3 separate regions of the Homo sapiens genome follow, and all the other regions are linked to region 1. The links come from fine-mapping of genetic effects on gene expression. A gene starts in region 1. Each other region holds a variant in brackets. All regions are shown on one strand. Distances are between the middles of the regions. Region 1 holds the start of CLEC4A (C-type lectin domain family 4 member A). Region 2 has its middle 20 kb from the start of CLEC4A. Region 3 has its middle 6.3 kb from the start of ZNF705A.

Region 1 (8,569 bases):
TTCTGAGTTTACAAAGTCAGAATATTGGAGCCATACTTTACTTCTCTGGGTCCCTTATTTCCCAGAACTGAATATTCATCAAGCCTCTACCTCCTTTATCATTCAAAATTACTTCATCTTCTCTTTTTTCGCTAACACTAGCCATAGATCAGTCTGACAATATTTCTCAATTGAATTAATGAATTATCCTTCTAACCTCTCTTTCCCTCCAAATTTGTCCTCATTTATCCATTTTCCACACCTCTGTAAAAATCATGTTTCTATAAGTCCAATCCAATTATATCAATTCCCTGCTTAAAATTCTTCAATTTTCTCTATGACTGTGACATTGCAAAAATGGCCACAACTTTCAACATACCCTGTATCTACACTGCTTTGCAATGTGATTTTGCAGCTTCTTCAATCAAGAAATGTGGTCTATTTCTCCACCGCCTGGATCTGGGCTGCCTGTAAGACTTCTTTTGGCCAATAGAATGTGCAGGAGCAACTCTGCGCTAGTTCCAAGGTGAGATTTCAAAAGGCCTTGCTTACTTCCGCTCTCAGTCTTAAAAGCCTGCCAGTTGCCATGTGAACAAACCCAGGCTACCCTGATGAATGATAAGAGAAACGTGGCCAAATCTCTCCTGCCATTCCATCTAACATCCTGTTCCTCAGAAGCTAAGTTGCCTGTGGCCAGTACCCAACCACATATACATGAGTGAGTTCAGCCAGGACTGGGGAAATCTCCCAACTGACACCAGTCTCAATTGCCAAGACACAGATTTATGAGCTAAATAAATAGTTGCTGTTTTAATCCACTAAGTTTTAGATTGGCTTATTAACCAGCAAAAGATAATTGATAAAATAACCTTTAGGAGGGAAAAAATCCAAACTCTTTATCATGATATACAGCAGTCTTCATGATCTGAGTCCTGTTTCTTTCTGCCACCTACAACTTCATTTCTTAGTTCTTTACTTAGCACCATATGTTCCAGTCATGCATACTTACGTTTCCCCAAATTCCATGCTCTCTCATATCTCTAGGTCATTCTTGGTACACACAGCTCTAGATGTCACCTCCTCCGGAAAGCCTACCTCAGCCTCTTGCACTTATTATACTTCTTAACTGTACAACACTTACCATACAATGTTATAACCACTGGTTCATTTTATCATTCTCTAAATTTCTTGAGACCAGGGGCTGTGGCTCTGTCTTGACTCTCTGTCTGGCACAGTGCCTGACATACAGTAGATGGACAATACTTATGAAATGACCAAAGAAATTAATAAAGAATCTACCTAAATGTATACTGCTTTTTATGCCTTTTAAAAATTTTGAGCCAGGCGTAGTGACTCATGCCTGTAATCCCAGCACGTTAGGAGGCTGAGGTAGGCAGACTGCTTGAGCCCAGGAGTTCAGGACAAGGCCAGGAAACATGAGAAAACCCTGTCTCTACTAAAAATACAAAAAAAAAAAAAAAAAAAATTAGCTGAGCATAGTGATGCACACCTGTAATCCCAGCTACTTGGGAGGCTGGGGTGGGAGAATCGCTTGAACCTGGGAGGTGGAGGTTGCAGTGAGCCAAGATTGCACCAATGCACTCCAGCCTGGGTGACAGAACCAGGGGGAATAAAACTCAACAAATGCTGAAAGCCAAAGATACGCAGCAATCCACCTAATTTGCAAAATTGACTTTTAGATCCCACACAGTCTTGAGCAGGGCAGGAATAATCAGAGTAAAAGCCAGTGGAGAACTCTTCCTGAAATATTTCTTCCCATCTCCTTGTTGTCTACCTGCTCATCCCAAAACATAAATGTCTGTGCATTCAAATCAGACTGGCCTGATAAATGCTACCAAGGAAACATAGATTTGTCCTCACTTACATAGTGTCTAGTATAGAGATGATGCCCCATAGATTTCACTCTACAACACAAATACATACACCCACATTTATGCTTCAGTTTCTCTAAATGAGAAGGGATTCCATTATTTTTACAGGACAGTAACTAAATCCAAATAAAGAGCAAAATTCACAGTGGATTCCCATGAATTATGTCTCCCCAGAGAAAATTTCATTTCAGATTTCTGGATAAGCTCATTTTCAAAAGTCAGTTTTTAAAGGATACCCTCTGTTCATGGACAGCAGATATTGCTTATTGGTTCAGTTGGCATACTTACTGACAAAAGCAATAAAGAATGAGATTGCCAATAGCAGGAAAAATATCAACAGTGAGGCACAAAGCAGCTTGGGGAATCCGGTATTACTTTTGTGAGGGGCAGTCCTCTCCTTGGAAGCTGAAGAAGAAGCCAAATTAGTTTTATCAGTAATAAGTTTGGTCTTTACTTCCTCTTCTTCCTCCTCCTCTTTCTCTCTCTTTTCTTGGATGACACACAGTTACTAACGGTATGACATTTGAAATCACATGAGAATAGGAATAGAAAGGATATAATAATATTCACTGTAGAAACTTTAAAAAATACATAAAAGTACGAATTCCTACAATTGAGGATAACTGTTATGCCATATAACTTATAATATACCATAATATTTTGGTATATATCTTTCTAGCAATTTTTTGAATGTATATATACACATATGCAAATTTTCCCACGATTGACATACCATAAATACTGATTTCTGACCTATTATTTTCCTTTACACTATATCATGAACATTTTTCATACCATTATATTTTCTTCTTTAACACTCCTTATTATGGTTGCATAGTATTTCATCATATATTTAAATAATGGTTTCCAACTTTAAATAATGCTATAGCAAATAAATCTTTATAATCATTCCTCATCACATGTTTAGAATAAAGTCAGTCTTTTTAGTTACCATCTCATGGTTAGGAATCACTTTCTTCGAGTTATGATATTTTGTCAAATGATGGGGGAAAAAAATTCAGTATTATATAATATGATTACATTTTTAGTAAAATACATATGCACATTATATGTATTTGTATGTGGAAGGATATTCACTAAATTGCAAATTATGATTTTCTCTAGATGATAAGAGTAATTATAATTCAAATATCTGTGTACCTCTGGTTAATTTTTTCTACAATGAACATTAATACTTGTGTAATAAAGAAATTATATAAAGTTTTTAAGGAGAAAAAATTTCCCTAAGTGCTCTCCACACCTTCACAGAGGTATTTTAGAAAGCGTAACTATAGTCCTGACCCCTTCCCCCATAGTTTCTTGTACTCTATATACATTCTTTTCTCTCTTTTGCTCTATACTTGAGATATCACACATGACACCCAAATCACCTTGCATCTACTCCCAAACGTAACAGAGTCTGTCTCAGAGATGCAACACGCAATAGGTTCTCTGATTTCAGAAAAAGTTTCCTGGAGATTTAAGAGACTTTCTTTGTAGACTTTCTAGTCTTTCATTTGCAAAGGCCTTTTGTTACATTTCCATCCATTACCAACAAATATACCCTCACCACTGTCCACCCAAACTCTTTCCCTCTAACTGATCAAAAAACAAATCTCACAAATTCATCAGGACCCCCTGCATCTGGATTGATGGTTTCAGAAGCTGTACTCAATCTCTTAACCCCAGCCCCACTCAGCCTCAGAAAACACAGGGGCATCAGAGCACTCGCCTTAGCTCAGAACTGGAGTGGATTTCTCTCACCTCTGTTTCAGTAAGCAGAGTGGAGGCTGAAGAGAGTGGCACAAAATCTTTTCTTCTCCACAATACAAATGTACACCCCGTAATGCGTATCTGCAGGCCACTCAATCTTCTGGGACTCTTGTGTTTCCCAGACATACTCAATCAGACAACCAGCAACTGAAAACACCTATGCCTTATTCATAAACCCTCTCCTCATCCTTCACCTCGTCATTCACTCTGACCCCTAGAAAATGATCTTTACCTGCAGAAGAGGCTGTGTTGATGCCTGAGGACTTGAATTCATTTTTGAACCTCACTTCAGCATAAGTGATTTCCGAAGTCATAATGGGAAGAGAGCTTCTGCTTTCTTCAGAAAATCTGTTTCAGATCTTTCTTAAAACATCTTATAAACAGGAACCAAACATGGTGGTAAATTACCTCCTTCCTTTCACTCAACTAGTGGAGAGCAGAGGCACCAGATAGGCACATATCCTCAAGAGGGGTCTCATGAGAACTAAGAACCACAATAAAAACTAAAAACCGCAGTTCACAGAAGCCCTTTCCTCAGGACCAGTATAGTGAGAATCACAGCCTTGAAACAAATGCAAGCAAATGCAATAAAAGTGGGAACTCAAAGGGTTGCGGAAAGAGGAAGAAAAATAAAAGAAGAACCAAGCACTTAGAGTCTTTCTGGAGAACTGCGTTTTTCACCAGTAAAAAATACAATTTCTGTGCTTCCACACACAAATGTAATTACTTTTGACCAAACATCCTGAACATAGACTTATGTTGCATTCATCTCATCAATTTTGACTGATCAGGCAACTTGTTAGTACCACATTCTAAGAGTATCATTGACACAAAACTCACATATCAGCCTCCCCACCTTCACGAATTAGTTTCCTGTAGCATGGTGGGGATGGCAAAGTTTAAACCCCATGTCTTCTGAAGCTGTTCCTCCATGCTCTCTGTGTTTCCTTGTTGGTAACTAACTCTATCAAAAGTCTGCATTCATCTTGCTAGAATCTCCAGAAAGCAGCTCCCTTTACTGGATGTTGGAGGAGAGGGAAGGCCAGCCTTTATTCCATGCTTCCCTAACCTTTTAATCGCCACATCACCTCCAATATATATGACTATTTTTTAACAGTTAGGAGAATTATATAGAATCACAGTATAGAAGGGGATAAACTTAAACAAAGTACTAAATATGACTTTTTCCAAAGGCCTAGAAGAAAACACTCCAAATATTAAATCCTTCATGTGGAATCTCTCCATAGACATGCTCCCAGCTCACACCTGGATTCTCTGCCCTCAACTCTCCGCAAATGATCCTCCTTTTAATCTCCCCCAGCTGATTCCTTCTCCTGCATAACACACATGCATACATGCATGCACACACACACAAACACACACGTCTATATTTCTATATTATTTCTATATCTAAATATATTGAACACCATGAGTTCACACTAATTCCTCTAATTCCAATCTAACACCACAAGTTTCATTCTAGTTTTCTCCCTTCCCACATTCCTAACTCCTTTCTGTGACACTAAGAAACCTGCTTTCATTGTCTTTCACTTATTCCTTATTTGATCAATCTCCTGGATGTCGTCAATCTCCCACCTGCTAAGATGTCCCTCTCTTCCTAGTTGGGCTCTGACTCCCCAGTCCAAGCCACCATCCCCTGCGCGGATGCCCTCCCTCCTCACTCTGAGAGTGCCGGCAAAGGGCCAGCCCACTCCCCACCCCCATGAACATCCCCCAACAAACATCCCCCTCACCCTGCCAAGGCTCTGACTCCCTGTGCTAGGCCATTCCTCTGCAGGAAAGCCCTCCTCACTCTGCTTGCACTCTGATTCCTGATGCTGGTCCCCTAGTCACCACTTAGACCCCCTTAGGTTCTAATGCTCCACACAAGGTCACCCTATGGGTGGAAGCCCTCCTCACCCTGGAGGGGTCTGATTTCCTCACCGGGCTATCCTACCACATGGACCACCTCCTTATCCTGCTAAGTTTCTGAAACCCACACCAAGTCCTCCCTCTGCATAGAAGCTTTCTTCATCCTGCTTGGGCTCTGACACTCCATGCAGGTCCTCCATCCCCCAGCAATAATGTCCATCTTACCCTACTTAGGATCTGAGTTCCCTCACTGGGCTACCCCACCACATGGACACCCTCCTTATCATGCTTGGTCTCTGAAACCACACCAGGTCTACCCTCTGCAAGGATGCTCTCTCTCCTCATCCTGCTTAAGTGCTGAGTCCCAACCCCAACTGGGCCAACACTAGGCATGGGTGCCCTCCTCACCTCTCCCACATGCTGACATACATACCAGGCTGGCCCTAGAGTACTCTGCTCAGCCATTTGCGACTCTGACTCCCTATAGAAGGTAACCTCATACATGGATGCCCTCCTCACCCTGCTTGCACTCCAACTCACTGCACCTGACTATCCCACCACATAGATGCCTTCTTTACCTCTCAGACTCTGACCTCTCACATCAGGCTACCCCTACTATGGACACCCTCCTCAATCTTATCCTCTGACACCCTGCACTGGGCCATTGCCAGGAGTGGACATCTCCTCGCTCTGGTTCCCCATGCCAGGACACTTTCCCACCCCTAAGGGATGTTCTTCTCACTCTGCTTGGGCTCCAGAACCACTGTCAAGCCAATACCCTGCATAGTCACCCTTCTCACCCTGCTAAAGCTCTCCCCCTGTGCCAGGCCACTGCTGCTCTCCCAGCCACCTCACCATAGACACCTATCTTGCTACTGCTTTATTTAGAATCAAATTATTTAGTAAGAAAAGGGAAAGGGGAATGACAAAGCATAAGGGAAGGATAAGGGAATTTTAAGTTCTCCACAAATTAATGATTGGGCCTAACCAGCACATGCACGTAGACAGGTATACATGCACACATATTCCCTGAAATAACAATCATTGATTCTCAGAGTCTTTACAATCTAAGCTCATAATTAGAAAGCAAACCATATTCCTAAAACTATAGCTCTCTCCCTGGAATAAGTCACATTATAACTGGATTACACCGTATCACCAACAACCCCAAAATCCAAGTGGCTTACAACAACAAACATGTATTTCTCACTTACATTACACTTGTGCTTAGGGCCACCTTGGAGTTGACTGCAACTCTGCTTGGCCCCTCTCCAAGTGTTTTCTCATTCTGGAAGCTGAGATCACAGAATAGCTCCTTGTAAGCTGAACCATGTAGTAGCATCCTTTATTCAGATAAGGTGTACGTTGTATTTGCTCTGATTCTGTTGGCCAATGCAAGTTACCTGAACAAACCTGCAAGTGAGACAGGGAAATATACTTTGTCTACAGAAAGACATGTCAAGGGTATCAAAGTTTAATCCTTTCACAAAGGAGAACACAGACATTTGGAAACAATAATAGAATCTATCCCCTTATCCCTTTAAATTATTTATCCAAGAGATCTCTTGGGCAGTGATCTCCAAAATGGGGCACAAGTACCTTAGGCAGTATAAAAGAGGATCTGCTAAGGCACAGAGAAAAAAACACTAAAACATCTATTTACATTTATTTAAAGTTTTAAGGAAGATAAGCTTTACTAGTATTGATTGCATGTCATGTGTGGTATGGTACCTATTATGAGGGAAGACTGGAAGTTCCACAACTCTGAGAGGCTGACAGTGTGCCTTCACTTGTTCGTTCACTCTCTGAATATTGCATCATGTTGCAGTTAACCTAGGTAATAAAGAATTTGCCTGGATTTTGTTCCCACTTCCTGGAGGTAGCCTTTAAATCCTTGGAATTTTCCAAATAATAGGATTGTCTTTGTTATTCATGGTGGGCCCGTATATCTCATGCTAATGAGGTCTCTCATGATGGGCTCTAAGATAGTTTATGCTAAGAAGGTGATTCAGGGTGGGGCTGGCCATGCCGGAAAGACCAGTCATGTGATTGGCGCATTGAAGCCCTGAGCCATGTTATATCAGCCCAGGTGGGGAAGGGAAGCTAGAGACTGAGTTCAACTTGTGACCAATGGTTCAATCAATCATGCCTACATAATGGACCCCAGTAAAAACTCTGGGCACTGAAGCTCCCCTGATTGGCAATACTCTGTGTATTATCACACATTAAAGTTCTAAGAAAGTGATATATCAATGGGGTCAATGGAAATTTCCATTTAGGACCCTCTCAGTCCTTACCCCATGCATCTCTCCCTCTGGCTGGTTCTGATTTGTATCCTTTTGCTATAATAAAACTGCAATCATAAGCATGGCACTATCCTGAGTTCAGTGAGTCATTCTAATAAATCATAAAACCTGAAGGGATCATGGGAAACCCCAAATTTGTAGTCAGTTGATCAGGAGTGAGGACACCCCTGGGAACCCCTGAACTTGTGGCTGGTATCTGAAGTAATGGCAGTCTTATGAAGGGCGTGCCCTCAACCTGTGAAATTTGGCCTAAGTCCAGGTAGTTGATATCAGAAGTCAATTTAATAGCTCAGTATTGTTAATTTCATGAAAACAAGATATTCGTTAGACTATTTATATTGATATGATGGCAAGTGACCATTCTGTTCACTGTGAAATTAATCTCAGTATTTAGAAGTAAGGATGGAGTAAATAGGGCACTTTTATTTTTAAAGATTTTTTACTGTTTGATATTTTATAAGCATGTATTTCTTTCATAATAAAAAGACACAGGCTAGGCATGGTAGCTCATGCCTGTAATCCCAGCACTTTGGGAGGCCAAGGCGGGTGGATCACCTAAGGTCAGGGGATCGAGACCAGCCTGACCAACATGGTGAAACCCCATCACTACTAAAAATACAAAATTAGCCAGGCGTGGTGGTGCATGCCTATAAGCCCAGACACTAGGGAGGCTGAGGCAGGAGAACCACTTGAACCTGGGAGGCAGAAGTTGCAGTGAACTGAGATCGCACCATTGCACTCCAGCCT
Region 2 (8,569 bases), 20 kb after region 1:
AAAAACTAGAAATGGACAAATTCTTGGAAACATGCAACCTCCCAAGATTGACCCAGGAAGAAATTGAATCCCTGAACAGATCAATAACAAGTTCTGAAACTGAATCAGTAATAAAAAGCCTACCAACCAGAAAAGGCCCAGGACCAGGTGGATTCACAGCCAAATTCTACTGGATGTATAAAGAAGAGGTTCCTGCTGAACTATTCCTACTGAAACTGTTCCAAAAATTTGAGGAGGAAGGACTCATCGCTAACTGATTCTCTGAAGCCAGTATCATCCTGATTCCAAAACCTGGCAGAGACAGAATAAAAAAGGAAACCAGGTCAATATCCTTGATGAGCATAGATGCAAAAATCATCAACAAAATACAAGCAAACCAAATCCAGTAGCACATCAAAAAGTTAATCCACCATTATCAAGCAGGCTTTATCTCTGGGATGCAAGGTTGGTTCAACATACACAAATCCATGAATGTAATTCACCACATAAAGAAAACTAAAAACAAAAGCCACACAATCATCTAAATAGATGCAAAAAAAGGCTTTTGATAAAATTCAACATCTCTTCATGTTAAAAACCCTCAACACACTAGGCATTGAAGGAATATACCACAAAATAATAAGAACCATCTATGACAGACCCACAGCCAACATCATACTGAATGGGCAAAAGCTGGAAGCATTCTCCTTGAGAACTGGAACAAGACACGGATACCTACTCTCACCATTCCTATGCAACATAGTACTGGAAGTTCTAGGCAGGACAATCAGGCGAGAGAAAGAAATAAAAGGTATCCAAATAGTAACAGAGGAAATCAAATCATCTGTTTGCAGATGAGATGATTCTATACCTAGAAAACCCACAGTCTCTGCCCAAAAGCTTCTAGATCTGATAAACAACTTCAGTAAAGTTTCAAGATAGAAAATCAGTGTACAAAAATCCAACGTCCAAGCTGAGAGGCAAATCAAAAATGTAATTCCATTCAAAATGCCACAAAAAATAATCATAAAATAAAATACCTCGGAATACAGCTAACCAGGGAGGTAAAAGATCTCTACAGCAAGTATTACAAAACACTGCTCAAAGAAATCAGAGATGACACAAGCAAATGGAAAAATATTCCATGCTCATGGATAAGAAGAATCAATATTGTTAAAATGGCCATACTGCCCAAAGCAATTTATAGATTTGATGCTATTCCTATCAAACTACCAATGACATTCTTCACAGAATTTTTTTAAAACTATTCTAAAATTCATATGGAACCAAAAAAGAGCTCAAATAGCCAGGGCAATCCTGAGCAAAAAGAACAAAGCTGGAGGCATTGTGTCGCCTGACTTCAAACTATACTACAAGGCTACAATAACCAAAACAGCATGGTACTGGTACAAAAACAGACACATAGACCAATGTAACAGAATAGAGAGTCCAGAAATAAAGCTGCACACCTACAACCATCTTATCTTTGACAAAGTTGACAAAAACAAGCAATGAGGAAAGGACTCCCTATTCAATAAATGGTGCTGGGATAACTAGCTAGCGATATGCAGAAGATTGAAACTGGACCCCTTCCTTATACCGCATACAAAAATCAACTCAAGAGGGATTAAAGACTTAAATATAAAACATAAAACTATAAAAACCCTGAAAGATAACCTAGGAAATATCATTCTGGACATAGGAATGGGCAAAGATTTCATAAAGAATATGCCAAAACCAATTATGACAAAAACAAAAACTGACAAATGAAACCAAATTAAACTAAAGAGCTTCTGGACAGCAAAATAAACTATTCACAGAGTAAACAGACAACCAACAGAATGGGAGAATATATTTGTAAACTATGCATCTGACGAAGATCTGATATCCAGAATCTATAAACAGCAAATTAACAAGCAAAAAACAAACAACCCTTTAAAAAGTGGGCAAAGGACAAGAACAGGCACTTTTCAAAAGAAGACACATGGCCAACAAGCATATGAAAAATTGCTCAACATCAGCCGGGCACGGTGGCTCATGCCTGTAATCCCAGTACTTTGGGAGGCTGAGGCGGGTGGATCATGAGGTCGGGAGTTTGAGACCAGCCTGGCCAAGATGGTGAAACCCCGTCTCTACTAAAAATACAAAAAACTTAGCCAGCCGTGGTGGCACACACCTGTAGTCCCAGCTACTTGGGAGGCTGAGGCAGGAGAATTGCTTGAACCTGGGAGGTGGAGGTTGCAGTGAGCCGAGATCGTGCCATTGCACTCCAGCCTGGGTGACAAGAGCGAAACTCCATCTTAAAAAAAAAAAAAAAGAAAAGAAAAATTGCTCAACATCACTAATCATTAGAGAAACACAAATCAAAACCACAATAAGATACCATCTCACACCAGTCAGAATGGCTATTATGAAAAAGTCAAAATAACAGCTGTTGATGAGGCTGCAGGAAAAAGGGAACACTTATACACTGCTGGTGGGAACATAAATTAGTTCAGCCATTGTAGAAAGTAGCGTGGTGATTTCTCAAAGAACTTAGAACTACCATTCAACCCAGTAATCCCATTATTGGGTATATACCCAAAGGAATATAAATCATTCTACCATAAAGACACATGTATGCCGCATACGTATGTTCACTGAAGCACTATTCACAATAGCAAAGTCGTGGAATCAACCTAAATGCCCATCAATGGTAGACTGGATAAAGAAAATGTGGTATATATACACTATGGAATACTATGCAGCCATAAAAAAAGAAAAAGAACATGTCCTTGGCAGCAACATAGATAGAGCTGGAGGCCATAAACCTAAGTGAACTAATGCAGGAATAGGAAACCAAATACCACATGTTCTCACGTGTGAATGAGATCTAAACATTGCATACATATGGACACAAAGAAGGGAACAACAGACATTGGGTCCCTGAGTGGGGAGGGGGAGAAGGGAGAGGATTGAAAAACTACCTATCAAGTACTATGCTTATTACCCAGGCGACAAAATAATCTGTATATCCAACCCCCATGACATGCAATTTACCTATATAATAAACCTGCATATATACCTCTGAATCTAAAATAGAAGTTTTTTAAAAAAAGAAAGAAAAGGTGCAGGGAAACATCAAAGATATGGTGGAGAAGGCAGGGATGGTTTGATTGTTTCTTGAAGAGAATCAACTGTCCTGTATTAGGATTCATGGAGAAGCCAGCCGTAGGCTTTCGTATGCACAGAAGCACCCAAATGGCTTGATTTGTAATTATGACCACAGAAACCAATTTATTTGCAAGGCATAAAGTACTTGTTTGCCATCCTAAATACAGAGGAAAAATGGGGAAAATGCACTGGAATGAAAAAAGGAAAATGGAATTTAATTTATTCTGAGGTGGCTTACAATTCAAGGTAAGACCAAGTATTTGTCACAACTGGTGTATCTCATCTAGAAAACATTTAAGGTAATGGACTGGCCTTTCTAAAATGTACTGACCTAAAAAAAAAAAAAAATGAGATTTTCTGCCACTATGGCAAAGCATATAAGGAATACTTAAGTCATGTAGCCAGGAGCAACCCAAATGAAAATGAGTAAAATACAGAAAACACTCAACTTACCAACTTCTAGTCCCTCCTCACTGAAATCACTGTTAATTCCACAAGTACTTCATGAGCATGTACTATCTAGAAAGGTGTATGGGAAGTACTGCAAGTACATAAAAATGAAGACATACATGGTCTTTATATTCAAAGAGCTTAAAACAAGTGAGGAAGAGAATTTCAACAGCAACACTCCCCACCCCTTGCCCCCTCAAATAAACAGATCACCTTTCAGATTGGAAGGATAGGTAAACATTTCATGAAGTAGTATTTGGGCGAGCATTACACAATGGGAAGGACCTCAACAGGCAGGTATAAAAGGGAAGGTATTCTAGGCAGAAAAAATTTTAATTTAGCAAGCACTCAATACTTGTGGCATATGAAAAACAACTAGTGGGGCTGGGTGCAGTGGCTCACGCCTGTAATCCCAGTACTGGGGACGCCAAGGCAGAGGGATCATGAGGTCAGGAGATCAAGACCATCCTGGCTAACATGGTGAAACCCTGTCTCTACTAAAAATACAAAAAATTAGCCAGGCGTGGTGGCGTGCCCCTGTAGTCCCAGCTACTCGGGAGGCTGAGGCAGAAGCC[G/A]GTGTGAAGCCGGGAGGCAAAGCTTGCAGTGAGCCGAGATCATGCCACTGCCCTCCAGCCTGGGCGACAGAGTGAGACTCCGTCTAAAAAAAAAAAAAAAAAAAAAAAAAAAAACAACAGAAAGAAACAAAGAAACAACTAGTAGTTCTTAAGTTTGTTAAAGCACATTGTGAGTCAATGGGAAAACTGAGTTGAAGATGAAATTATATTTTGGACTTTATAAGCAAAGAAGAATTATTAAAGGCAATTAATAGGAGAGTAAAAAACATGAGCAGAGCTTTGTTTCACAAACATTACTTTGGGGTTAACATGTAAGCTGAATTAGAACTAAAAAAGCCATTGGCAAGCAGACTGCCTAGGAGGTTATCAGAATGGAGGAAGTGAGGAGTAATACAGGCTCACATTATAACAAGACAAGTAGTATCAAATATAATTAAGGGGAGTTGAGCTAGAAAATTGATTGTCCACATTTTTTTTCCCAAACAAAAACTTAAGGTCTAAGATATACCTCTGTCAATAGCAGTGCCTCAAAATCTCAGTAATGATAAGAAAAGACGCAGTTCAGGAAGTCTCTTAAGTCCTCCTACAGGAAGGCAAAAGCGGGAGGTATATCAGAATCTCTGAAGAAAGCAGTATGTGTTACTTTTTACATATACATATATATATCTTTTTTCCAGCTTTATTGAGGTATGGTTGACAAATAAAAATTATATATATTTAGAATATACAATGTGATATTTTAATATATGTATACATTGTGAAATGATTACAATTAGGCTAATAAACGTATCCATTACCTCACGTAGTTACTTGTGTGTGTGGTGAGAACACTTGAGATCTACTCTCTTAGCAAATTTCAGGTATGCATTATTATTAACTATAGTTACCATCCTGTACATCAGGTCTCGGTGCTTATTCATCTTATAGCTGAAGGTTTGTACCCTTTGACCATTATCTTCCTTCTTCCCTGACCTCCTAGCCTGGGTAACCATGATTCTACTGGGTTTCTGTGAGTTTAACTTTTTCTAGATTCCACTTGTAAGTGAGATCATGCATTATTTATCCGTCTGGCTTATTTCATTTAGTGTCTTCTGCAAACAAAGACAATTTTATTTCTTCCTTTCTGATTTGAATGCCTCTTATTTCTTTTTCTTGCCTGATTGCTCTGGCTAAGTCTTCCAGCACTATGTTGAATAGAAGTAGTGAGTGGGCATCCTTGTCTTTTTCCTAAATTAGAGGAAAAGCTTTCAGTTTTTCACCACGGACAATAATGTTAGTTCTGGGCTTGTGATATATGGCCTTTATTGTGTTGAAGTAAGTTCTTTCTATATCTAAATTGTAGGGTATTTATCACAAAAGAATGTTGAATTTAGTTAAATGCTTTTTCTGCATCTATTGAGATGATATGGCCTTTGTCCTTCATTCTGTTAAGACAGTTTATCACATTTGATTTGTGTGTGTTGAACCATCCTTGCATCCAAGGGATAAGTCCCACTTGATCATGGTGTATAATCTTTTAACAGGCTCTATTAAATATACTAGCCAAATTCAGTTGGCTAGTATTTTGTTGAGGATTTTGCATCTGTGTTTATCAGGGATACTGGGATGTAATTTTCTTGTAGTGTCCTTATCTGGCTTTGGTATCAGGGTAATGCTGACCCTGTAAAATGAATTTGAAATTATTCCCTCCTCTTCAATTTTCTGGAAGAGTTTGAGAAGGATTGGTATTAGTTCTTTCTTTTTAATGTAGGAGAAAAGGCATATAAATTTCATTTATTTCTGCTCTTTTTTTTTTTTTTTTTTTTGAGATGGAGTCTCACTCTGTCACCCAGGCTGGAGTGCAATGGCACAGTCTCGGCTCAGTGCAACCTCCGCCTCCTGGATTCAAGCAATTCTCCCGCCTCAGCCTCCCGAGTAGCTGGGACTACAGGCGCGTGCCACCACACCCAGCTAATTTTTGTATTTTTAGGAAAGACAGGGTTTCACTATGTTGGCCAGGCTCGTCTCGAACTCCTGACCTCGTGATCCACCTGCCTCGGCTTCCCAAAGTGCTGGGATTACAGGCGTGAGCCACTGTGCCTGGCCTGTTACTTCTTTCTTTCTGCTAACTTTAGGCTTTGGCTAGTTCCTGTAGGTGTAACATTAGCTTGTTTGAGATCTTTCTTTTTTCTTAATGGAGGTATAAACTTCCCTTTTAGAACTACTTTTGCTGCATCCCATAAATTTTGATATGCTGTGTTTCCACTTTAATTTGTCTCAAGATATTTTTTTCTTTTTTGATTCTTTGACCCATCGATTGTTCAGGAAACTTTTTAATTTCCACATGTTTGTGAATGTTCTGGTTTTCATCCTGTTATTGATTTCTAATTTCAGACTATTATAGTCAAAAGATACTCAATATGATTTCAATCTTAAATTTGTTAAGACTTGTTTTGTGACCAAACATATTTATACTGGAGAACATTCCACGTGCACTTGAGAAGCATATGTATTCTGCTGCTGTTGAATAAATGTTGTGTATATGTCTCTTAGGCCCATATTGTCTGAAGAGCAGCTCAAGTTCAATGTTTCCTCTTTGATTTTCTGTCTGATCTATCCATTGTTGAAAGTGGGGTATTCTATTGCTGTCTATTTCCCTCTTCAAGTCTGTTAAGAGGGCTGTTCTGCCATTCTTTTGTTCCTTTACTTTCTTAATAAACTTGCTTTCACTTTTAAAAAAAATCTGTTATTTGCTTTATATATTTTGATGCTCCAATCATCTTGATGAATTTACCTCTTTGGGCCAGGCACAATGGCTCACACCTGTAATCCCAGCACTTTGGGAGGCTGAGGTGGGTGGATCACTTGAGGTCTGTAATTCAAGACCAGCCTGGCCAACACGGTGAAAACCCATCTCTACTAAAAATACAAAAATCAGCCGGGCGTGGTGGTACATGCCTGTAGTCCCAGCTTCAGGAGGCTGAGGCAGGAGAATCACTTGAACCCAGGAGGCAGAGGTTGCAGTGAGCTGAGATCATACCACTGCACTCCAGCCTGGGCAAGAGGGAGATTCTGTCTCAAAGAAAAAAAAAAAAGAATTTACCTCTTCAACGTTTATGTAATGACCGTGTCTCTTGCTCTTGTTATAGCTTTTGACTTAAAGTCTATTTTGTCTGAAATACATACAGTATTCCCCCCTTATCCTGAGGGAATACATTCCAAGATCCCCCTTGGATGCCTGAAACCACAGATGGTACTGAACCCTATATACATTATGTTTTCTCCTATATATACACCTATGATAAAGTTAAATTTATAAATTAGGCACAGCAAGAGATTAACAATAAGTAATAATAAAATAGAATAAATATAACAATATGCCAGAGTCACCACTCTTGTGCTTTGGGGCCACTATTAAGTAAAATAAGGGTTAACTGAATTTGTACAAGCATTGCAATACCACAACAATCTGATAACTGAGAGGACTATCAAGTGTCAAATAGGTAGGTAATGTATATAGAATGGACACATTGGACAAAAGGATGATTCACATCCAGGGCAGGGCAAAGGAATATGGTGTGAGATTTCATCACACTACTCAACTGTGTGCCACTATTTTTTTTTTTTTTTTTTTTGAGACGGAGTCTCGCTCTGTCGCCCAGGCTGGAGTGCAGTGGCGCGATCTCGGCTCACTGCAAGCTCCGCCTCCCAGCTTCACGCCATTCTGCCTCAGCCTTCCGAATAGCTGGGACTACAGGTGCCCGCCACCACGCCCGGCTAATTTTTTCTATTTTTTAGTAGAGACGGGGTTTCACCATGTTAGCCAGGATGGTCTCGATCTCCTGACCTCATGATCCACCCGCCTCGGACTCCCAAAGTGCTGGGATTACAGGGGTGAGCCACCGCGCCCGGCCCCCAGTGTGCCACTTTTAAACTTATGAATAATTTTTGTAATTTTCCAGTTAGTATTTTCAAAGCACAGTTGACTGCAGGTAACTGAAAGCACAGAAAACAAAACCTCAGATAAGGAGGGACTATATAGTAATATAGCTACCCCTGCCCTCTTTTGGTTTCCATTTGCATTAAATATCTGTCTCCATGCCTAACTTTCAGTCTCTATGTGTCCTTAAAGGTGAAGTGATGCTCTTGTAGGCAGGATACAGTTGAGTCTTGTTTTTTTAATTCATTTAGCCACTCTGTCTTTTGATTGGAGAATGTAATCCATTTTGCATTCAAAATAATCATTAATAGGTAAGGACTTACTGCTGCCATTTTTCAAATTGTTTTTTGATTGTTTTGTGGGCCCTTTGTTCCTTTCTTCCTCTCTTGCTCTATTCCTTTGTTATTTGATGATTTTCTATAGTCCTTTGATTGTTCTCTTTATCTTTTGTGTATCTACTATAGTTTTTGCTTTGTGGTTACCATGAGGTTTA
Region 3 (8,569 bases), 27 kb before region 1:
TAAGTGTGACTTATTTTCCTAATTTCATCATTTTCTAACCTATTATCATGTTTCAATCTCTATTTCAGTCCTAAGATTATCTAACTTTACAATTCTTCCACTTTGTACATTTGTTTACTTTAAAAAAAAATCAGTCTTAGATTTAACATCAATTCCTAATCTTCCATTCTTGGTTTTACTTTTAATCTCCTCCCTGTAACTAAAAAGAAAAACAGTTCTCATTTCCACTCTGTGGTTATTCTTCTAGAATCACTGCATGTACAACTCCAAAGTGAGGCAGACAGGAACCACCTGTGTGGGTTTCTTTGAAGCTCAAATCTCATTCTTTATCTTGACAAAAATACAAGCAAAAGAACATTCAAAAATTTAAAGAATGTTGACTCTCCAAATATGTTCAAATAATTCTCATGATGTTTTATGTGAAGTTTCTCTTTTTGATTATCATGGTTGATCATGCAAAAAACAAGCATTTAAATGGCATAAAGATAATTTGTTTATATGCCTTCAAAATATAAACAAATATTCAATATCACAAAAATCTATTGCTATTTCTATATACTTTTCTTAATGATAAGTAGTCATTCGAAGTTGTGTTAATAAGTTAATGTCTTAAGAAGAAACACAAGAGAGAGCTGAATAGTAACAGCTCTGGTCTGCAGCTCCCAGTGAGACCAACAGAGAAGGCGGGTGATTTCTGCATTTCCAACTGAGGCACCTGGCTCATCTCATTGGGACTAGTTAGACAGTGGGTGCAGCCTGTGGAGGGTGAGCAGAAGCAGGGTGGGGTGTTGCCTCACCCAGGAAGCACAGGGATCGGGGAAGTCCCTCCCCTAGCCGGGTGTAGCCATGAGGGACTGTGCCATGAAGAACAGTGCTATCAGGCCCAGATACTATGCTTTTCCCATGGTATTCACAACCCACAGACCAGGAGATTCCCTCAGGTGCCTACACCACCAGGACCCTGGGTTTCGAGTGCAAAACTGGGCAGCCATTTGGGCAGACACCAAGGTAGCTGCAGAAGTCTTTGGGTTTTGTTTTATTTTGTTTTGTTTTGTTTTTATACCCCAGTGGCACCTGGAATGCCAGCAAGACAGAACCATTCACTCCCTTGGAAATGGGGCTGAAGCCAGAGAGCCAATTGGTCTCATCAGTGGGTCCCAACCCCATGGAGCCTAGCAAGCTAAGATCCACTGGCTTGAAATTCAACCTGCCAGCACAGCAGTCTGAAGTTGACCTGGGATGCTTGAGCTTCACTGAGGGGGAAAAGGGTGTCTGCCATTACTGAGGCTTGAGTACGCAGTTTTCCCCTCACAATGTAAACAAAGCCACCAGGAATTTGGAACTGGGTGAAGCCCATCACAGCTCCACAAAGCCAGAATATAAATGACTAAATGGAGCTGAAAAATACAGCACGAGAACTTCGTGAAGCATACGCAAGTATCAATAGCCAAATCTATCAAGTGGAAAAAAAGGATATCAGAGATTGAAGGTCAACTTAATAAAATAAAGTGTGAACACAAGATTAGAGAAAAAAGAATGCAAAGGAATAAAAAAAGCCTCCAAGAAATATGGGATTATGTGAAAAGACCAAACCTATGTTTGATTGGTATACCTGAAAGTGATGGGGAGAATGGAACTAAGTTGGAAAACTACTTCAGGATATTATCCAGGAGAACTTCCCCAACCTAACAAGGCAGGCCAACATTCAAATTCAGGAAATACAGAGAACACCACAAAGATACTCTGCAAGAAGAGCAACCCCAAGAGAGATATTTGTCAGATTCATAAAGGTTGAAATGAAAGAAAAAATGTTAAGAGCAGTCAGAGAGAAAGGTCAGGTTACCCACAAAGGGAAGCCCATCAGAATAACAGCAGATCTCTCTGCAGAAACCTACAAAGCAGAAGAGAGTGAGGGCCAATATTCAACATTTCTAAAGAAAAGAATTTTCAACGTGGAATATCATATCCAGCCAACCTAAGTTTCACAAGCAAAGGAGAAATAAAATCTTTCCACACTTGCAAATGATAAAGGATTTTGTCACTACCAGTCCTGTCTTACGAGAGCTACTAAGAAAGCACTGAATATGGAAAGGAAAAGCCGGTACCAGCCACTGCAAAAACATACCAAAATGTAAAGACCATCAACACTATGAAGAAACTGCATCAAATAATGTGCAAAATAACCAACTAGCATCATAATGACAGGATCAAATTTACACATGACAATGTTAACTTTAAATGTAAATGGGCTGAATGTCCCAATTAAAAGACACAGACTGGCAAATTGGATGAAAAGTCAAGACCTATTGGTGTGCTGTATTCAGGAGACCCATCTCACGTGCAAAGACAAACATAGGTTCAAAATAAAGGGATGGAAGAATATTTACCAAGCAAATGGAAAGCAAAAAAAAAAGCAGGGGTTAAAATCCTAGTGTCTGATAAAACAGACTTTAAATCAACAAAGATTTATAGGACAAAAAAGGGCATTACATAATGGTAAAGGGATCAATGCAACAAGAAGAGCTAACTATCCTAAATATATATGCACCCAATACAGGAGCACCCAGATTCATAAAGCAAGTTGTTAGAGACCTACAGAGAGATTTAGACTCCCATACAATAATACTGAGAGACTTCAACACCCCACTGTCAATATTAGTCAGATCAATGAGACAGAAAATTAACAAGGATATACAGGACTTGAACTCAGCTCTGGACCAAGCAAACCTAATAGACGTCTACAGAACTCTCCACCTCAAATCAATAGAATATACATTCTTCTCAGCACCACATCACACTTATTCTAAAATTGACCACATAATTGGAAGTAAAACACTCCTCAGCAAATGCAAAAGGATGGAAATCATAACGAACAGTCTCTCAGACCACAGTGCAATCAAATTAGAACTCAGGATTAAGAAACTCACTCAAAACCACATAATTACATGGAAACTGAACAACCTGCTCCTGAATGACTACTGGATAAACAACAAAATGAAGGCAGAAATACAGAAGTTCTTTGAAACCAATGAGAACAAAAACACAACGTACCAGAATCTCTGGGACACATTTAAAGCAGTGTGTAGAGGGAAATTTATAGCCCTAAATGCCCACAAGAGAAAGCAGGATAGGTCTAAAATCGACACCCTAACATCACAATTAAAAGAATTAGAGAAGCAAGAGCAAACAAATTCAAAAGGTAGCAGAAGACAAAAAATAACTAAGATCAGAGCAGAACTGAAGGAGACAGAGACACGAAAAACCCTTCAAAAAAATAATTGAATCCAGGAGCTGGCTTTTTGAAAAGATCAACAAAATAGACTGCTAGCCAGACTAATAAAGAAGAAAAGAGAGGAATCAAATAGACACAATAAAAATTGGTAAAGGGGATATCACCACTGATCCCACAGAAATACAAACTACTATGAGAGAATACTATAAACACCTCTACATGAATAAACTAGAAAATCTATAAGAAATGGATAGACTCCTGGACACATACACATTCCCAAGTCTAAACCAGGAAGCAGTCAAATTCCTGAATAGACCAATAACAAGTTCTGAAAGTGAGGCAGTAATTAATAGTCTACCAACCAAAAAAAGTCCACAACCAGATGGATTCACAGCCGAATTCTACCAAAGGTACAAGGAGGAGCTACTACCATTCCTTCTGAAACTATTCCAAACAACAGAAAAAGAGGGAATCCTCCCTAACTCATTTTACTAGGCTAGCATCATCCTGATGCCAAAACCTGGCAGAAACACAATAAGAAAAGAAAATTTCAGGCCAATATCCCTGATGAACATCGATGTGAAAATCCTCAGTAAAATACTGGCAAACCAAATCCAGCAGCACATCAAAAAGCTTATCCACACAATCAAGTTGGCTTCATCCCTAGGATGCAAGGCTGGTTCAACATATGCAAATCAATAAACGTGATCCATCACATAAACAGAACCAAAGACAAAAACCAGATGATTATCTCAATATATGCAGAAAAGGCTTTCAACAAAATTCAACACAACTTCATTCTAAAAACTCTCAATAAACTAGGCATTGATGGAATGTATCTCAAAATAATAAGAGCTATTTATGAAAAACCCACAGCCAATGTCATACTGAATGGGCAAAAGCTGGAAGCATTCCCTATGAAAACCGGCACAACACAAGGATGCCCTCTCTCACCACTCCTATTTAACACAGTATTAGAAGTTCTAGCCAGGGTAGTCAGGCAAGAGAAAGAAATAAAAGGTATTCAGATAGGAAAAGGGAAGTCAAATTGTCTCTGTTTGCAGATGACATGACTGTACATTTAGAAAACACCACCGTTACAGCCCAAAATCTCCTTAAGCTGATAAGCAACTTCAACAGAGTCTCAGGATACAAAATCAATGTGCAAAAATCACAAGCATTCCTATACACCAATAACACAAACAGAGAGCCAAATCATGAATGAACTCCCATTCACAATTGCTACAAAGAGGATAAAATACCTAGGAATACAACTTACAAGGGATGTGAAGGACCTCTTCAAGGAGAACTATAAACCACTGCTCAAGAAAATAAGAGAGGACACAAACAAATGTAAAAACATTCCAAGCTCATGGATAGGAGGAATCAATATTGTGAAAATGGTCATATTGCCCAAGGTAATTTATAGATTCAGTGCTATCCCCATCAAGCTACCACTGACTTTCTTCACAGAATTGGAAAAAAACTACTTTAAATTTCATATGGAACAAAAAACGAGCCCACATAGCCAAGACAATCCTAAGCAAAAAGAACAAAGCTGGAGGCATCACGCTGCCTGACTTCAAACTATACTACAAGACTACAGTAACTGAAACAGCATGATACTGGCACCAAAATAGATATATAGACCAATGGAACAGAACAGAGGCCTCAGAAATAACATCACATATCTATAACCATCTGATCTTTGATGAACCGGACAAAAACAAGAAATGGGGAAAGGATTCCTTATTTAATAAATGGTGTTGGGAAACTGGCTAGCCATATGCAGAAAACTGAAACTGGACCCCTTCCTTACATCTTA[T/C]ACAAAAATTAACTCAAGATGGATTAAAGACTTAAATGTAAGACCTAAAACCATAAAAACCCTGAGGAAAACCTAGGCAATACCATTCAGGACATAGGCATGGGCAAGGACTTCATGACTAAAACACCAAAAGCAATGGCAACAAAAGACAAAATTGACAAATGGGATCTCATTAAGCTAAAGAGCTTCTGCACAGCAAAAGAAACCACCATCAGAGTGAACAGGCAACCTACAGAATGGGAGAAAATTTTTGCAATCTATCCATCTGACAAAGGACTAATATCCAGAATCTACAAAGAACTTAAACAAACTTACAAGAAAAAAACAAACAACCCCATCAATAAGTGGGCAAAGGATATGAACAGACACTTCTCAAAAGGAGACATTTATGCATCCAACAAACATATGACAAAAAGCTCATCATCACTGGTCATCAGAGAAATGCGAATCAAAGCCACAGTGAGATACCATCTCACACCAATTAGAATGGCAATTATTAAAAAGTCAGGAAACAACAGGTGCTGGAGAGGATATGGAGAAATAGGAACACTTTTACACTGTTGGTGGGAGAGTAAACTAGTACAAACATTGTAGAAGACAGTGTGGCAATTCCTCAAGGATCCAGAACTAGAAATACCATTTGACCCAGCCATCCCATTACTGGGTATATACCCAAAGCATTATAAATCATGCTACTATAAAGACACATGCACACGTATGTTTATTGTGGCACTATTCACAATAGCAAAGACTTGGAACCAACCCAAATGTCCATCAGTGATAGACTGGATTAAGAAAATGTGGCACATATACACCATGGAATACTATGCAGCCATAAAAAAAGGATGAGTTCATGTCCTTTGCATGGACATGGATGCAGCTGGAAACCATCCTTCTGAGCAAACTATCACAAGGACGGAAAACCAAACACCACATGTTCTCACTCATAGGTGGGAATTGAATAATGAGAACACTTGGACACAAAAAGTTCGAAGAACTTTTTGATTTCTGCCTTAATGTCATTATTTACCCAAGAGTCATTCAGGAGCAGGTTGTTCAATTTCCATGTAGTTGTGTGGTTTTGAGTGAGTTTCTTAATCTTTAGTTCTAATTTGTGCTGTGGTCTGAGAGACTGTTACTATTTCAGTTCTTTTGCATTTTCTGAGGGGTGATTTACTTCCAATTATGTGATCAATTTTACAGTAAGTGCCATGTGGCGCTGAGAAGAATGTATATTCTGTTGTTTTGGGATGGAGAGTTCTGTAGACATCTATCAGGTCCACCTGATCCAGAGCTGAGTTCAAATCCTGAATATCTTTGTTAAATTTCTGCCTTGTTCTGTCTAATATTGACAGTGGAGGGTTAAAGTCTCCCACTACTATTGTGTGGGAGTCTAAGTCTCTTTGTAGGTATCTAAGAACTTGTTTTATTAATCTGGATGCTCTGTATTGGGTGCATATATGTTTAGGATAGTTAACTCTTCTTGTTGAATTGACCCCTTTACTATTATGTAATGCCCTTCTTTGTCTCTTTTGACTTTTGTTGGTTTAAAGTCTGTTTTGTCAGAAACTAAGATTAGAATCCCTGCTTTTTTCTGTTTCCCATTTGCTTGGTAAATTTTTCTCCATCCTTTTATTTTGAGTCTATGTGTGTCTTTGCATATTAGATGGTTCTGTTGAATACAGCACACCAATGGATCTTCACTCTTTATCTAGCTTGCCATTCTGTGTCTTTTAATTGGGTCATTTGGCCCATTTACATTTAAAGTTAATATTGTTATGTGTGAATTTCATCCTATCATCATGATGTTAGCTGGTTATTTTGCAGACTTGTTTATGTAGTTGCTTCATAGGATCATTGGTCTGTGTACTTCAATGTGTTTTTGTAGTGGCTGGTAATGCTTTTTCCTTTCCATGTTTAGTGCTTCCTTCAGGATCTCTCGCAAGGCAGGCCTGGTGGTGATGAATTTCCTCAGCATTTACTTGTCTGAAAAGGATTTTATTTCTCCTTCATTTATAAAGCTTGGTTTTGCTGAATATGAAATTCTCAGTTCAAAATTGTTTTCTTTAATAATGTTGAATATTGGCCCCCAATCTCTCCTGGCTTCTAGGATTTCTATTGAGAGGTCTGCTGTTAGTCTGATGGGCTTCCCTTTATAGGTGACTTGGCCTTTCTCTCTGGCTACCCTTAACATATTTTCCTTCATTTCTACCTTGGAGAATCTGATGATTATGTGTCTTTGGGTTGATCTTCTTGTGGAGTATCTTACTGGGTTCCTCTGTATTTCCTGAATTTGCATGTTGGCCTGTCTTGTTAGGTAAGGGAAGTTCTCCTGGATGATATCCTGAAGTGTGTTTTCCAACTTTGTTTCATTCTCCCTGCGTCTTTCGGGTATCCCTATCAGTCGTAGGTTCAGTCTTTTAACATAATCCCATAGTTGTCGGAGGTTTTGTTTGTTTCTTTTCATCCTTTTTTCTCTAACCTTGTCTACCTGCCTTATTTCCACAGAATTGTCTTCAAGTTCTGATATCCTTTCATCCACTTGTTCTATACAGCTATTGATACTTGTGTTTGCATTGTGAAGTTCTCATGTTGTGTTTTTCAGCTCCATTGAGTCATTTGTGTTCCTCTCTAAACTGGTTATTTTGGTTAACAGCTCCTGTAATGTTTTATCATTATTAGCTTCTTTGCAACGAATTAGAACATACTCCTTTAGCTCAGTCAAGTTCATTATTACCCATCTTCTGAAGCCCGTTTCTGTCAATTCATTCATCTCAGCCTCAGCTCAGTTCTGAGCCCTTGCTGGAGACATGTTGCGATCATTTAGACACTCTGGTTTTTTGAGTTTTTAGCACTTTTGCATTGATTCTTTCTCATTTTCATAGGTATATCTACCTTTGATCTTTGAGGCTGCTGATCTTTGGATGAGGGTTTTGTGGGGTCTTTTTTGTTAATGTTGTTGTTGTTGCTTTCTGTTTGTTTTTCTTTTAGCAGTCATGCCCCTCTTTCCCACGGCTGCTATGATTTCCTGGGGGTCCACTCCAGACCCTATCCACCTGGTTCCCTCCCACCCCTGGAGATGTCACCAGTAGAGGCTGCAGAACAGCAAAGATGGCAGTCTGCTCCTTCCTCTGGGAGCTCTGTCCCAGAGGAACACTGACCCCATGCCAGCCAGAATGCTCCTGTAGGAGGTGTCTGGAGACTCCTGTTGGGACATTTCACCTAGTCAGGAGGAGCAGGATCAGGGACCCACTTAAATAAGCAGTCTGGCTGCCTCTTGGTGGAGCGTGTGTGCTAAACTGGGAGGAATCCTCCTCGTCCAGACTGTCCTGATTCTCCAGAGCCAGGAGGCAGAAAAGACTAAGACTGTTGATCCATGATACCACAACCGCCCCTCCTCCTAGGAGTTCCTCTCAGGGATATCAGTGTTCTGTCCATAAACCCCTGGCTGGGGATGCTGAAATTCCCACAAGGAGGCCCCGCCTGGTGAGTTGGACTGGATTGATGTCCCG

Evidence for each region. PIP is the estimated chance that this variant, and not a neighbour inherited with it, causes the effect.
Region 2: its variant is the best candidate, but not a certain one, in a credible set for the expression of CLEC4A in lung (TOPMed, PIP 0.52).
Region 3: its variant is the best candidate, but not a certain one, in a credible set for the expression of CLEC4A in lung (TOPMed, PIP 0.68).

The regions. Positions count from the first base shown.
Region 1 is chr12:8,119,268-8,127,836 of GRCh38, reverse strand. CLEC4A (C-type lectin domain family 4 member A) reads right to left here and starts at 4,220. Exons shown (of 6, transcript NM_016184.4): 1 at 3,877-4,220; 2 at 2,160-2,276. The coding sequence starts at 3,958. RefSeq lists an enhancer at 4,301-4,350.
Region 2 is chr12:8,099,079-8,107,647 of GRCh38, reverse strand. It overlaps a transcript of CLEC4A not described here. Among named protein-coding and RNA genes, the nearest start is that of CLEC4A, 20 kb to the left of the region's middle. The variant G/A (reference allele first, on the strand shown) is at 4,158.
Region 3 is chr12:8,146,423-8,154,991 of GRCh38, reverse strand. No RefSeq gene overlaps it. Among named protein-coding and RNA genes, the nearest start is that of ZNF705A, 6.3 kb to the left of the region's middle. The variant T/C (reference allele first, on the strand shown) is at 5,058.